2 linked regions of the Homo sapiens genome follow. The protein of the gene in region 1 interacts with the protein of each later gene in a pairwise test. Each region holds a gene or a part of one and is shown on either strand. Other genes may lie near its edges.

The links. Proteins that work in one complex are often made in the same cells at the same time.
Region 2: the proteins of FCRL3 (region 1) and STATH interact in binary tests that used the Homo sapiens proteins (3 or more experiments, as listed by UniProt).

Annotation. Positions count from the first base shown.
Region 1 is NC_000001.11:157,696,798-157,706,783, forward strand, and holds the start of FCRL3 (Fc receptor-like protein 3 isoform 1 precursor), read right to left. Parts: upstream 3,973-9,986; 5' UTR 3,865-3,972; intron 3,789-3,864; 5' UTR 3,693-3,788; coding exon 3,662-3,692; intron 2,916-3,661; coding exon 2,895-2,915; intron 1,833-2,894; coding exon 1,587-1,832; intron 1,123-1,586; coding exon 862-1,122; intron 628-861; coding exon 343-627; intron 1-342. UniProt on the Homo sapiens protein: Promotes TLR9-induced B-cell proliferation, activation and survival but inhibits antibody production and suppresses plasma cell differentiation. Enhances activation of NF-kappa-B and MAPK signaling pathways in TLR9 stimulated B-cells.
Region 2 is NC_000004.12:69,998,651-70,004,133, reverse strand, and holds the end of STATH (statherin isoform a precursor), read right to left. Parts: intron 4,468-5,483; coding exon 4,447-4,467; intron 4,355-4,446; coding exon 4,325-4,354; intron 3,272-4,324; coding exon 3,185-3,271; 3' UTR 3,152-3,184; intron 1,946-3,151; 3' UTR 1,564-1,945; downstream 1-1,563. UniProt on the Homo sapiens protein: Salivary protein that stabilizes saliva supersaturated with calcium salts by inhibiting the precipitation of calcium phosphate salts. It also modulates hydroxyapatite crystal formation on the tooth surface.

The DNA of each region.
Region 1 (9,986 bases):
GTTCAGGTTACCAAATGGAAGCACCACAGGGGCCTCTTAAAACTGCATGTGTTCAGTTGTGCTTCTAGTTGTCTCTTGATTCATGAGAGAACCGATCTTGTACATCTCTGTAACCCCATAGGGTTGGGCAATCAGTAACTGATCAATAATTACTATTACCTGACTCAAGTGGAAGAAAATGTTCTAGGGCTGTTAGACCAACGTTGAGCTTAAAGAGAGAAGATTACCAGAATAGCTGGACACTCCTCTCTGTTATGTCCACCATCCTAGGGGTGCAGGAGATATCACTGGCCTTCCTCTCCCCAGCTCTGACTCTGGAAGAGCAGCCCCTTAGACACTCACTCTGTACACGTATCTGAGATCTCAGGCTCCTTTTTTTGATGCTGTGAGTCACTGTCTCCACCTCACACCAGTAAGACCCTGAGTCTTCAGTCCACATGGCAGGGATCTGGAGTCTGGGGGACCTGCTCCAGCCCAATCCGAGGGTCTGGCTATCTCTGAAGAGGGAGAATTGCAGCTGGACATCTGGCCTCTGTGGAGAGAGCTGGGTCTCACAGGTCAGGGTCATGGGACTCCCCTCTATGGGCGTGGAAGAGCTGGCTCTCAGCACAGGATGTAGAAACAGCTCTAATGAAAAGAAACAACATAGTCTCCAGGGTGGTGAGGCTCAGAGTTCCTAGAGAGATGCATTTGTCATCTCAGCACCAGCCATCAGGAGATAGAGAAGCATGCAGAAGGAACCATCTCCCTCCCATGGCTGAGCCATAGGAGACTCTTTATGAAATTCCCACTGATAAACATCTTCCCTTTATCCCCAGTTTCCCTAACAAACCCAGTAATCCACAGGAATCTAGCCATTACCTTGAACTTGGATATTTAGGGGTTTTGAAGTTACTTCAATGTCAAGTATGTAAAACTTCCTATAAGCAGTACAATGATATTTGCTATTATCCCTGGAGACTGAATTCACTGTGATCTTCTCTAAATTATAACTATTAGGAAGCTGTTTTCCATCCTTGTAGTAAACCTTTTGATGAGTGTTTTTGTTGTCTTTCCCCTGACATCTCAGAATGACATTGTCTCCTTCAAAGACAGGATGTAAAGCCTGCAGGATCAGCCAGTCTGCAAAGAGCACAGGAGCACACTCAGGTTATCCCCTGCTGTTTCTGCCTTCACTTTCATTTCCACCCATGAGGCAAGAGCCACAGTTCTATACACACCTGCAAATGGCCCCCACCCACATTGCCATGTGGCCCCAAATACCTGATTCTTCCTTGCCCTACAAGGGTGAACCAATTCCCAGAAAATGTTCTTGAGAAATCTTCACATGTCTTTTCACAAAAGAGGAATCCCAGACTTGAACCCCTTTTTGCCTGATGGCCCCTGGGTCACCCACAATTCTTTGGAGGTAGATGGATAGACAATCCAGCATCATGCTGCTGCCCTATCTCTTTATTTTCCCCACTGGGGTCAGTGCATCAATCCCCATGTCTGCTTACAACTCTGCCTAGGATCCCTGCATTAACCCGGCCCTCAGGCATTCTGCCTGGTGGCTTGACTTTAGACACTCCCCTTCCATTCCTCACCAGGTGAAAATTCCACATGCACGGCATCACTGAGGGAGGATCCTCGGGTCTTACATTGGTAATTTCCAGGCTCTGTAATTTGGATCTTGTCATGTTTTATTTTCAACAACTTCTCATCGTGATACCAATATGTGTCTCCCTGGGCTAGGGAATGTGATATGCTGCTGCATATGAGAGCCACTTTTTCTCCTTTGAAGGCTGTGGACCATGGAGGATTGAGGAGAAGTACAGCTTTTGGGGCCACCCCTAAACAGGAAATAGAAAGATGAAGGCAGGGGAAGGTCAATGGGAGGTGGGCACAGCACATGGGGAGCCCAACCTACAGTCAGGAGTTTTCCTGGACTAATTTCCAGTCAGGACCAGGGTGGAAAATTGAGCAGAAATAACCTAGGGAAATGCCTGGGAAAGAATCTGTTCTTCCTCATCCATTTCCTGGAGGTGGGCAGAAGGGTATTATAGGGGAGAGGTCTCAGTTTCCTGGCATAGCCTCAGAAAAGCTCAGGAGATGTGATTTGCCATTGGGCAAAAACTGCGAAGGCCTCAGAATGTGGCTGATCCTGAAATTCTCTTGTCCTATACATTTCTGTCCAGATAAAGGTGAACCTGGGATGTATATACCTCAGAAGTAGTTTCTAGACTCCAGAAAATTACTTCCTACTTGTTAACACTTAAAATGAATAAGATTTTCTCACTTGTATTACTTTTATATCTCTCTTAGCTTTGAAAGTCTATGGGGAAGGCAACTTTACTCTCCATTTAAGTTGGACACAGTAAACAATGGAGGGATATAAAGAATTTAAATGGAGGAGGATGGGTTGCCTGAGAAGTCAGACTTGTGTATGGAATTGCAACTGACTGACAGGCATGGAAGTGAGGTGTGGCAGTGGCATGAGCTCTTTTTGGAGATTTATAAGGATTCTGCTGTAGCATCTTCCTCCGTGGATGGGATCTATTTCTATGTCCTTTGATAGCAGCACTAGCTTGGACATTCAGAGGGAGATGTACTAGAGAATATGGAGATCACATATGAGATTCCTTCATCATCAGCCTCTTGCCTCTGTCCTTTGCTCTGCAAGTGTTTCCTTCCTGTAGTCTGAGGAATACCGGTAATGTAGGGAGAAAAAAAAAAAAAAACCTAGAGACTGAAAAAGTCGGAGGAGGCTCTGTTCACCCAATATAGTAGCAGATGTGACCCCAGAGCATTAGCATTGCTGATGGGATGCGTGCCTGCAAGGGTTAGGGCAGGCTGTGTGGGCTGAGGGGACCAATATCCAGAGACCAGAGGGGCAGAGAGAAGGAGAAACTTACCTGATTGTTCTCTTCCAGGAGCTGTGAGGGAGCAGAAAATGACAATCAGACACTCTCCGAAACATTTTCTAACAACCTAACCACAACCACTTCTTTTGTTTTTCCTTATCATTTCTTTGCTCCCTTTTTATATCATCCAGAGCCCCTAAACAACAAAGAAAATGTCATATAATGTATTTTACAAACGTGATGGCTTATGTCCAAGGCCTGACCTCATCTCTGCTATTATTTACTTGGCCACGGCACACTTTATTCTCTCCTTCTCTTCTCTGAGTGCAGAGGCAGACAAGGACTTACAGAAATGGTTTATCCTCCTTTCGTTCCTTGGGCTCCTATTGTTCCCCTCACTTTTTCAATCTCTGATTAAATTTTGGCTTAAAACTTCTAGAAAACAGTGATGTTTCTCAGTAAACCTTCCTTCACGTGCCTAGGTTTTTAGAAGTAACTGCTCATCTGAAAAATTATTTAGTCTGAGGCTTAAGAGGGAGGGTGGGATATAGAGTTGTGGTTTGGCAGAAGGAAAAATCCAAGTTTCCTATGAGGTGAGAAAAGCAGTGGGTGAGAAACCAAGGTCAGGATATCTGGCTTGCTCTGATGGTTGCATTTGGAGCCTCTTGGTTGTCCAGGGAACCCAGCTCTGCTCACTTCCCATCCCTTGCTATCTGTCTCTGAACCCCAAGTAGAAGCAGAGATAGAAGCTCCTTGAGTTTTTCCCTGGTCACCTTTAGGAACTGAGGCCGTGGCCCCATTATAGCCCATCTACTCACTCAGGATCAGCAGCAGCAGCCACAGAAGCATGGGCACCGGCCGGGCAGAGGGTTGGGAAAGTCTGTCTCACCAAAAGCCCGACTTATCTCCAAGAAGGAGGGCAGGAAGCTGCTACTCAGATGAGACCTGCAAGAATCAGAAAAGGGAAGAAGAGCTTAGTGTCATATTTTGCTTTGGGCTCTGAAAATGTGAATGTGGCTACCTTCCTAAATGCTGTTTGTATCTCAATCCCGGTAGTGATACATTTTTAGAAGTTGGGGCTCATCTTCCATCAGCTGCAGTCTCTCAGGAGTAATGTCTCCAAGACTGTGCCTGGGTTCTCTAGAAATATCAAGTTGTGTATTTGCTAGTATTCAAATAATTCTTTCTGTATTTTTCATATGGGAAACCCCTTCACTACCTTGTCTTCACACAGCCTTTGGTTCTGCATGCAGCTCCTAATGTAGGCAAGCTTAATGAGCGTGGTGTGAATCACACAGTCAAGGTGTCAAGCATATGCCTTTTTGACTTTCACATAAGTTGTTATGAGGCTTCTGAACAGGAAAATAATACAAATGTACAGATCAAGGACTTCCCGTAATCTCACCCAGATCTGCAAATTAGGAGATAAATCAGCAAGCGTACCACCGTTTTTAAAGCCAAAGCCCTTCTCAGAAAGGGCTTTGCAATCAAAGAGGTTCCACCCCATTATTTTGTTTCAGGTCCTTTGTGTTTTTTTCACAGTGTTTATAACAATTTGCAATTATTTTCTCTATTTCCTTGTTTGCTTTCGTGTCTTCTTTCCCACTAACATTTAAGGGCCCCTTTTCTTACCCCTTATATCCCCCGCACCTCTAACTGTTCTTTCTTGAAAGCATTCCTTTAGTAAGTATTATTTGAGGGACTATTGAATAAAAACTCTGAACCAGTGTTTCTCAACCATTTTTTCGTTATTGCTCCCCTAAGGATCTTTTTTAGACAATTTTGTTTTTAGCCACCCCCTTTTTCCATGAAAATTTAATACCACAAATATACTATGTATGTGTTTATGTGCTGCATGTATAGCTGTGTTTGATACATTAAAAAATTAGTTTTTTTCATCTTCCCAAGAGTCAATTCTTGCCCCTTTGAAGGTGATATAACTTCTGTTAGGAAGGCGTGTTTTAGACTTAGAGGTAAGCCATTCTTGGGAATCTACCTACCAGGATAAAGTTGTCATCATTCAGATACCTTTACATTAGAAATGGGAGATGATCTCAGATCAAATGTCCCATCCTCAGGGTGCCCAACCTTGGCAGGTAATGGAAAGAGGGTCCTCTTTTTTAACAAATATTATTATGTTCTTTCTCCCATGGAAGTCACCAAATTTTATCATTCTCTATATGTTTATGTGATTGTATAATGCCTATTTTTCTCATTAGATAGTATTACAAGGTTTGGGAACAAGCCTGGTTTGTTCTTCATTTTGTTTCAATGCCTAACAGAGCACTTGTCACATACCAATTTGTCAATAAGGACTTGCCAAATGAACGACCAACAAACAGTAAGGAACAGGATGACAATAGAAGAGGATTGGATGTGTTTCAATGTGTGCTTAGTCATTCCTGGTTAGAGATTTCTCCAATATTCTGGAGAAGATATATTGGTTATATCAATTTATTTAAATTAAATTAAATTATTTATTTAAACTATACCCAGTTAATCCACACTACAGGGTCTTTGTAAACTTGTAATTGTAGAGTATGGTGCCACATCTACTGAGAGGTATTCTCTGACCTCCCACATTTGGGCTGGGTGTTCCTCTCATGTGCATCAATAACACTTGGATTTCCTTCACTCCAGAACCGATCACAGTGAACTGAAACATCCTGTCCCTTTGATGGTATTCCTCAATGATCTAAGTATCTTTAGGGAAGGGAGCGGTTAGGGCTTATTTTTTATTTCTCTGAGGACAGCATGCTCATCAACAAAAGGAAGGTTCAGTGGGATATGGATAGCTTCGAGATTCAGTGTGTCATTTCAGACTAATTCAAAATATGAATAAACCTCAAATATACTTCATGCTCAAAGGTGACGATGTTGTTGATGACTCTGAAGTATTGTTTCCTGTGGTTGGAAAGATATGCTCAGAAAAGAGTATTTTGAATTTAATTGCTCATCTGTAGCCAAAAATGTTACATTTTTCTACGTCTCTCTCTGAAGACAGGAACTATGTCATATTCACATTATTCTAGCACCTAGCACAGTGCCTAACACTCAGTAGAGGATTGCCAGATAAAATGCAAGGGTCTCATTTAAATTTGTATTTCAAATAAAAAACAAATAATTTTTACTATAATTATGTTCCATACAATACTTGGGATATGTATGAGTTCGTTTTCATGCTGCTGATAAAGACGTAACAAGACTGGGCAATTTACAAAATAAAGAGGTTTATTGGACTTACAGTTCCACATGGCTGGGGAGGCCTCACAATCATGGCAGAAGGCAAGGAGGAGCAAGTCACATCTTACATGAATGGCAGCAGGCAAAGAGAGAATGAGAGCCAAGCGAAATGGGTTTCCCCTTATCAAACCATCAGATCTCGTGAGATTTACTCACTACCAGAAGAACAGTATGGAGAAAACTGTCCCCAGGATTCAATTATTTCTCACTGGGTCCCTCCCACAACACATGGGAGTTATGGGAGTACAGTTCAAGATGAGATTTGGGTGGAGACATGGAGCCATATCAGGATATAATTGCATTTAAAAAGTAGTCACTGTTTATCTGAAATACAAATGTAACTAGGAGTCCCATATTTTTATTTGCTAAATACGCCAAATCTAATTGAACAGAATAACTTTTCATTTGCCTGAATATATTAATGAATGGTTGTGTTGGGGGGACATCTATTTTCTTCCATGTGCATGCAACTCCTACTCCTGTTCCTCCTTCTGCTCCTTAACTCACTCCATCCTGGAAGAAGTGACGTGCCTTATGTGATCAGTAAATTTGGGAAGAATAATTGAGTCATGATAAACTTATTATTATTATTACTATAATTTTTTGAGAAAGAGTCTCACTTTGTTGCCCAGGCTGGAGTGCAGTGGCACAATCTCGGCTCACTGCAAACTCTGCATCCTGGATTCAAGCGATTCTGGTGCCTCAGCCTCCCGAGTAGCTGGGACTATAGGCACGTGCCACCACGCCCAGCTAATTTTTGTATTCTTAGTAGATACTGGGTTTCACCATGCTGGCCAGGATGGTCTCGATCTCCTGACCTCATGATCCACCCACTCGGCCTCCCAAAGTGCAGGGATTACAGGCATGAGCCACCGCACCTGGCCCCATGCTAAACTTAACTCCATGCTCTTCCCCCTGGATGCAACTCTACTGGCAGAAGGGTTTATGAACAAGTATACGCCTTCCCCTGTGTGGAGATTTAAGTGGGGAGGGAGTGAGGGAGTCTAAAGTTCCAGAGCAAATTTTCAGAGACACAAACAATTGGGGCATGGGTTTAGATGTAAAAGAACTAAAAACAAAAGAACAAATGTATGAGAGCTATATATTTACAAGGAGAGGCTTTTGGTGGGAAGAGATCCTGTCATTCTCAGCCTTGGGATTTGTTTAGTAAGAGAGACGGGCATTTTCCAGATTGTAGAGGCCTATTCTGAGCCACCTTTTATACTTAACTACTGAGCCTGGGCAAGATGCTTGCAGTCTTAGGGCATATGGTTTTGTGACACGACTTGTGGTGGCTTTGTTCATAGGTCAGTGGTTGTTTCTATAGAGGCAGGACTGTACCCATGAATGTCAATAAGCAAAAGGCACAAGAAACTTGTGAGGGCCTTCAAGATTGCTGCGAAGCCCTTGTAAGCAGGGACAGACAAGGCAAGGGCTTACGTATGGGCAGTAAGTGCTTGGAAGGACACAAGTGCTGCCTGGCAACAGAACTTTGGGGGCTGCAAGATGGTTCAACAGAGGCCCACAGTAGGCACAGTCACATTTTCTAGGTAGTCATAGCTGAAGCAGATAGTCTTTTGTTTTGTTTTTTTTGGGGGGAGGGAGGGGCAAAAATAGAAATCTCTAAAGCATTTTTAGGCACTGGTGACTGGAATAATATTTTTGGCTCCAAGATTCCTTGTATGCTACAAAACACCAATGAGAATCTAGTTTTAAATTGCTAGAATGAAGCCTAGAAAAGCTTCCCATGTCTCAGTCACCCCAAATCTCACCCTGCTTTCAGGTCCAAGCAGCAAACTGGATGGATTACTCTTGAATTCATGTGGCATTCTCTTGGCTCAAGGGTGGAAAACATTTAAACAATTACTGACATGATTACATAGTTATTGTAGGTGGCTTAATTTTTTAATTCTTTCATATACAGATGGGGCTGTGCTCCCCAGACTGGTCCTGAACTCCTAGACTCAAACAATCCACCCACCTCTGCCTCCCAAAGTGCTGGGGCTCCAGGTGTGAGGAAACACACCTGGTCAGTTATATTTTCTAACTGAACTAAATGTAAGTACAAGGTGAAAATATTCCCTAGGAGACAGTCTTCTTAGGCCAGTACAATTCCATATCAAGCAGAGGTTGGTCTGCTCACTTGAGAGAGTAGATGCTGTGTCACATAAGAGGTCCCTCACTGAATTCAGAGCTGAGGTGTCAGGAGCACTTCACTCAAAGAGGAAGTGAAAATCAAGATGCTTTGAATAGATTCAATGGAAAAGAAAGACACAAAATGTTATTTTAACATAGGTTCCTTCAATGTCTAGTTTATTGAGAGGTTTTAACATGAAGAGATGTTGAATTTTATTGAAGGCCTTTTCTGCATTTGAGATAATCATGTGGCTTTTGTCTTTAGTTCTGTTTATGGGATGAATCACATTTATTGATTTGCATATGTTGAACCTTGCATCCTAGGGCATAAGAAACCCACAGCCAATATCATACTGAATGAGCAAAAGCTGGAAGCATTCCCCTTGAAAACCGGCCCAAGACAAGGATACCCTCTCTTACCACTCCTATTCAACATAGGATTGGAAGTTCTGGCCAGGGCAATCAGGCAAGAGAAAGAAATAAAGGTATTCAAACAGGAAGAGAGTAAGTCACACTATGTTTGTTAGCAGATAACGTGGTCCTATATCTAGATAACCCCATCATCTCAGCTCAAAAGCTTCTTAAGCTGATAAGCAACTTCAGCAAAGTCTCACGGTACATAATCAAAGTGCAAAAATCATGAGAATTTCTATACACCAACAGTAGACAAGCAGAGAGCCAAATCATAAATGAATTCCTACTCACAATTGCCACAAAAAGAATAAAATACCTAGGAATACAGCTAACAAGGGAAGTGAAGGACCTCTTCAAGGAGAGCTACAAACCACTACTCAAGGATAGCAGAGATGACACAAAGAAATGGAAAAACATTCCATCCTCATGGATAGGAAGAACTGATATCATGAAAAAACAATTTATAGATTCAATGCTATGCCCATTAAATTACCATTGACATTCTTCACAGAATTAGAAAAAAAAATTTTTTTAATGTGTGTGGAACAAAAAAGAGTCCAAATAGACAGGACAATCCTAAACAAAAAGAACAGACCTGGAGATATCACACTACCTGACTTCAAATTATACTACAAGACAACAGTGACAAAAAAGCAAGGTATTGGTATAAGAACAGATACATAGACCAATGGAACAGAGTACAGAGCCCAGAAATAAGACCACACACCTAAAACCATCTGATCTTTGACAAACCTGACCAAAACAAGCAATGGGGAAAGGATTCGCTATTTAATAAATGATGCTGGGAGAACTGGCTAGCCATATGCAGAAAATTGAAACTGGACCCCTCCTTTCACCATATACAAAAATTAATTCAAGATGGATTAAGAACTTAAATGTAAAACCCAAATCTATAAAAACCCTAGAAGAAAATCTAAGCAATACCCTTCAGGACATAGGCGCAGGCAAAGATTTCATGACAAAGACACCAAAAGCAATTGCAGCAAAAGCAAAAATTGACAAGTGAGATCTAATGAAACTAATGAGCTTCTGCTCAGCAAAAGAAGCTATCATCAGAATGACCAGACAACCTACAGAATGGGAGAAAATATTTGCAATTTAACCATCTGACAAAGGTCTAACATCCAACATCTACAAGGTACTTAAACAAATTTACAAGGGAAAAAAATAAAAAACAACCTCATTAAAAAGTGGGTAAAGGACATGGACAGACACTTGTCAAAAGAAGATATATATGTGACCAACAAACACATGAAAAAAAGCTCAACACTACTGATCATTAGAGCAATGCAAATCAAAGCTACAATGAGATACCATCTCACACCAGTC
Region 2 (5,483 bases), on another chromosome or scaffold:
TCATATATATGAGAAATTTAAAATATACATTATTTAAAGGTAAATATTAGGTTGTTTTATTATTATTTTTAGCATGATAGTATTCATTTGAAAGAACATCTTAGTTTCAAAAATTTCTCTGAGAATAAAGGAGAAAATGCAAAACAAAGAATAATGAAAAAATATCTTTGGAAAACATGACAGTCATCTTCACCTTTAAGACTTTGAGAATTAGAAATCTGATCAGATATAGATTAATTTATTAAAAGTGAGAGTAAGAAGTTTAAGACACTTATGCCTAATGAATTCAATTTTCCTTTCAAATACGTATGTTGTTGTTATTATTATTATCAATATTATTATTTTGAAATTGACTACTGAGTGAGATGAGTTGGTTCCTTCAGAAAACAAATATTGGGGCAATTTATTGTAGGTTAATGAGAGAGGTATTGCATCAAATACGTGGAAAAAACTTGGTGAGCAATGTTGTACTCCAAATTTAGAAAACAAAAAAATCACATTTTTTCTATATATCTAGGTTTTGATAAAGAAACATGATATAAAATTTAGGGATTTATAGGATTGAGATATTAGCAAGTAGAGTTACCCAAACCCAGAAGTTCACTGGAATTGTTTGAGTTATTGCAAGTATATAGTGAATGAAAAATATGAAGTACTGGCTTAGAGGAAAATAAAATAAATTTTAAAAGGAACACATAGAATAAAAGGACATAAAAATAGGAAGGACCCACAGATTTCTGTAAGGCCCAAGTGTGGATATCTATGATTCAACCCTTGATTCCATTCCAAAATATAAATAAGATTATGTCTTTCTCCAATGTCATCCATCTCAAATCAAAGACTTAACATGGGCCACAAAGCTTTAGTTACCTGCGTATCCCTTATGCTGTGACGTAATTTATTTTGATCCACTTGCCTTCTCTGTCCATATTGGTCTCCTTGAATTTGTCCCTAATGAAACAAACATGTTTCTATCACAATAAATTTGCATTTGCTATTTTCTGCTGGAAAATTTATTTCTCCATATTCGCTCTCATGCTTAGTTCATATCTTTCATAAAATGTCACTATGTCAGAGAGTCTCTTGTTGACTATCCTGTTTAAATTTGTTTCTGTGCCCTAGACATGCTTATACTTCTTTAGCACACTTATCATTGCCTAAGATATGTACTATTTATTTACTTTGTATCTGCATCTCCCAACTACAATGTAAACTCTCCAAAGACAGGACTTTTGTCTCTCTTTGTCTGCAGCATCTAGAAGAGGACCTGACAGCTGGGGTCATTCAATAAATATTTCTTGAATAAAAGTCATTGCTGAAAAACTAATGGAGGGCATTAGATGGTTTACATGCAGAGTGCCTACATACTGCTGTAGAGTGACATGGTGGTTATCTTCTGACCTACAGGGACTGAGATAAAAAATGTGAGTGCTTTGGAGGCTTAGCAACTGTGGTGTGGCAAAGGAAACCATGGGCAAATCAAATCTTGGCATAAATAGCTCTAATAATAAGTGAGTTTGAGTACCATGTTTGTAACATATAAAATATGACAGACTAAATTATAAATAAGGACCTCTGACATTATGGGCTTCAATCTGTGCTAGTCAAACTGGGAAAGAAGATGATGAAAGAAATCATTATTCCTATAAATAGAAAAGAGAAAAATAAGGAGCATACATGTAAAAATGTGCTTGAAATTTATTGCTTTTAGAGAAGTGATTTCTATTATTCAGAAACAGTACTGAACACAGCTTAACAGTTTAAATTGCAATTATATCATCAAGTGACAATTGAAAAGGCAAGTATCCTGAAACAAAGAGTATACAGTAAATTATAGTGTTTTTCATTTGCATTGCTCTTTGATGATTCTTCAAAAAGTGGTAGTAGTGTGATATGGTATGAAAGATGAGAATATGGATGTAGAAGTCGTATTTGCCAATCAAGCCTGCACAGAAAAAAAAAAATAACAGATTATCTGTAAAATTTTTACCCCTGTAAACACATTTATATTCTGGCCTGGTACAGAGTAGATATTATATACAATTATAGTTTATAAAATGCAGGGCCCAAAATAATATTTGACACAGAGTAGACAATTAAACAATTATTAAATTGGTTCCTGAATAAATAAAAATTATCATTCAGCATCTACAATTTAAATTATTTTTCAATCATCATACTATTTTATTCTTCTACTTAAATATAGCCTACACATTTCATTTATATGCATTTCCTCTAAATAATATTTCAATACATCTTTTCTTGATTAAATGTCATCAGCTATTACCTAAAACCTAGGGGATCAAGTTCAGGCTCTTCCCTGTATCACTAATGGCAATAGAGAATTGAATTGGAATATAATCTCCCAAATGCACTGAAAAATAATTGAAATCCTTTGGACTATTTTAACTTTGTAGAACAATCCTCCCTTATCTCCAAGAGTTTGCTCTATTTTGTTTTGAAATATTATTTTTTCATAGAATTTAGAACATTTAATGTTGTGTAGAGATAGGTAAAACTGACTTTCTAAAAAGAAATTGATAACATTTCCATATTTTCTTGTTAGCATTATGTTAATAATTTCTATAGTAATTGCTCAGTAGAGTTACTTAGGGTACAAAATGCAAATTTCTCACAAGTTCCCAGATGGTTCCCAGATGGAAGCTTCTCCAAAGATTGCATTTTGGGAGTGAAAACTTTAAGCAACACCTAGGTACAGATTTAGTGGCAGGGAAGCCCTGCAGTTATAACTACAAACCTTTCTGATCAAGAGATTTTATGTGATATGTCTTTCAAAAGTGTCACCAATTCTAAAAAGCACATTTAAGTGTTATCATAATACACAATTTTTTGACGAGAAAACTGAGGTTCAGGAGCATTAGGAGTAGTTCAAAGTCATGAAACTAGTAGTTGTCAGGGCCAGCATACAAACCCTGGTGTCCCCCACTCTATAACACTGCCTTCTAACCATAGCAGGACAGAGACTATCTCAGAAGCATTTATATAAATTAATACATTTCAAGGAGCTATACAGCTGGCTGCTTTCTTATACTGGAACTGCTGTTGGTTTAATGTCTTGTTTTTGTTTTTCTTCTTTTAACTGTCAGCACTGATACAGAAAGTAAAAAAAATGTCACTAAACCCATCTTACCTCAATAATCATGTCCTGCAGTTACTGATGATATTAAAAGGTATATTGTTGGTATTGTGGTTGGTATGGTTGTGGGTATAGTGGTTGTTCTGGAACTGGCTGATAAGGGCCATACCCATACTGTATACACACAAGGAGAAAGAAAATTGCAGAAAATTGAGATAATGACAGTGCAAGCGTTTTTATTAGAAGCTTAGATTGTTAAAGTTTTAGGAACTTACATATTACTTATAAGATTTTTTTCCAAACTTTCAATTAGATTTTTCTTTTTGGTTATAAACACATTTTAAAAGCAGGTAAAAATGATTGAGTGTTTACCTTTGTACTGCATGTTCACAGTTTTGTGGTTTTATTTCACATGCAGGAACACCGATTATAGGCTATCACTCCAAAGAGGTTTTAAATTTTCTTCAAAATACTACCTCCCAGCAACCATTTTGCCCACCTTTGAGTATTATGGGAAGGAGACATTTACTAAATTCAGCTTATGTGGTGTTTCTTCAAGTCACTCTTTTAATGAGCTTACTGTCTCTTACGATTCCTACATTCCTTAATACTTCTTCCTTCTGTTAACACAAATAACCATCATCCCTTTTAGAGTATCTTTTTATTTGGTGTTATTTTAATCCATGTATTCACTATATTAGTTAGGGGATCTTTTGCAACCCTATCACATTGACATTATATGTCAACATACTGGGACATCAAGATACATACATTAAGAAAAATGTTAAATAAATGAAATTTGCTATCTCATTTATCATGACCTGTTTAATTTAATGAGTTTATCACCGTCAAAAAAAATCAGAAGGTGCAAACTTACCATATTTTATGTGTAATTATCAGCCTTTATGCTCCATGAGGCATATATTATAATTAACAGAATTAGAATTTCAACTATTTTTTAGGTCAAAGTGATTACTTAGGAGATGATACTTGAGGGCTCAGGGAGTAACTGGTTTCTTCAGGTTGGCACTATGAGTTTCAACTTAAATGTTGTTAGGACACAATACATTTGTGACTGTTACCTGTGTATCATAAATAGAGGAAAACAAAGCACACTTTTGCAACTACTACACATATTTGAGAAATAAGTATTGGTTCTTCTAGAAGAATAAGTAATCAGAGAACACAATTTATTTGGACTACACAGCATTATCAGAGAACACTTACACCGAATCTTCCAATTCTACGCAAAAATTTCTGTGAAAAATGAAGAAAAGTTTAATAATTCAATACAAATGTAGGGAGGACAAAACTGAAAACAAGTTTTCCAGTGAATGAAAATGACTCACCTCTTCAGATGAATCAGCTCCCTTAGAAAACAGAAAATTAGACAATAGTTAGTATCTTAATGTTATAATTCCAGATTGAGTACAAAAATGAACTCAGCAGCTACAGTTGTGAGTAAACAGGATGTAGGCAAATCATCGATAGACACTAAATTAGTTATTTTTGCTTCATGACATCTTTAAAATGAGTTAAGAGTATGCTTTTCTGTAATTAGTGTGCTATATTCAAATATAAATTTATTTGGATTTATACTTGTTTTGTGTGTAAAAGGGAGTAAATGGTTATCATTGGTGAATGAAAAGTGAAACTTTGTATTTTTTCATAAGAATATGTTTTCAGCAGCTCAAAGGCTACTTACACATAACTTTTATTTACTGACAGAGACAAGCATTATGTTTTTCTCTGTTTTCCTTACATTTTTATTTTTTATTTTTTAGACACCTATCCTTTTATAACAAATAATGTGGTATACTGTGATTTTATAATCAAATTAGTTTTTGAAATATCTGTTAGAATTTACCAGGTAAGTTGAACTATTTTTATTCTTTCATGGCCAGTTTCCTACTAATGTCATAGAAAAGGGACAGGAGAAATAGAAGGAAGTAGAGTAGAAGAAAGAGCTCCAGAGAAGTCAAGTGCTTTACCTAGTGATACATAGTAGTAAATGACAATAAAAGCTGGGAACTCATAACATGTCATAGATCTGAAGTTTTGTTTTATAGTTAAAAATAAGCAGCTTTATTTTAGAAAGTGTGTGCTAAATAATTGTATACTAATTTTAAGTTAGTTTTTGCAAGGAATGACTTGAAAATTTCTACTTTGACATCTTCTAATACTTGAATTCCACTCAAGTGCACCTAGTTCATTCCTGAGATTTCTAACTTCAGATTGTCTAGAGCATTACATGTTTAAAGATACTTTTAGAAGCTCTCAGTTCCACATATTTAAGAAGTTCAGTAAAACTTTCTTTTATTTCACACTAAGCTAAATATACTTTAGTGTCTGTAGATGAATAATGACTATTTATTCTAAATCCTTA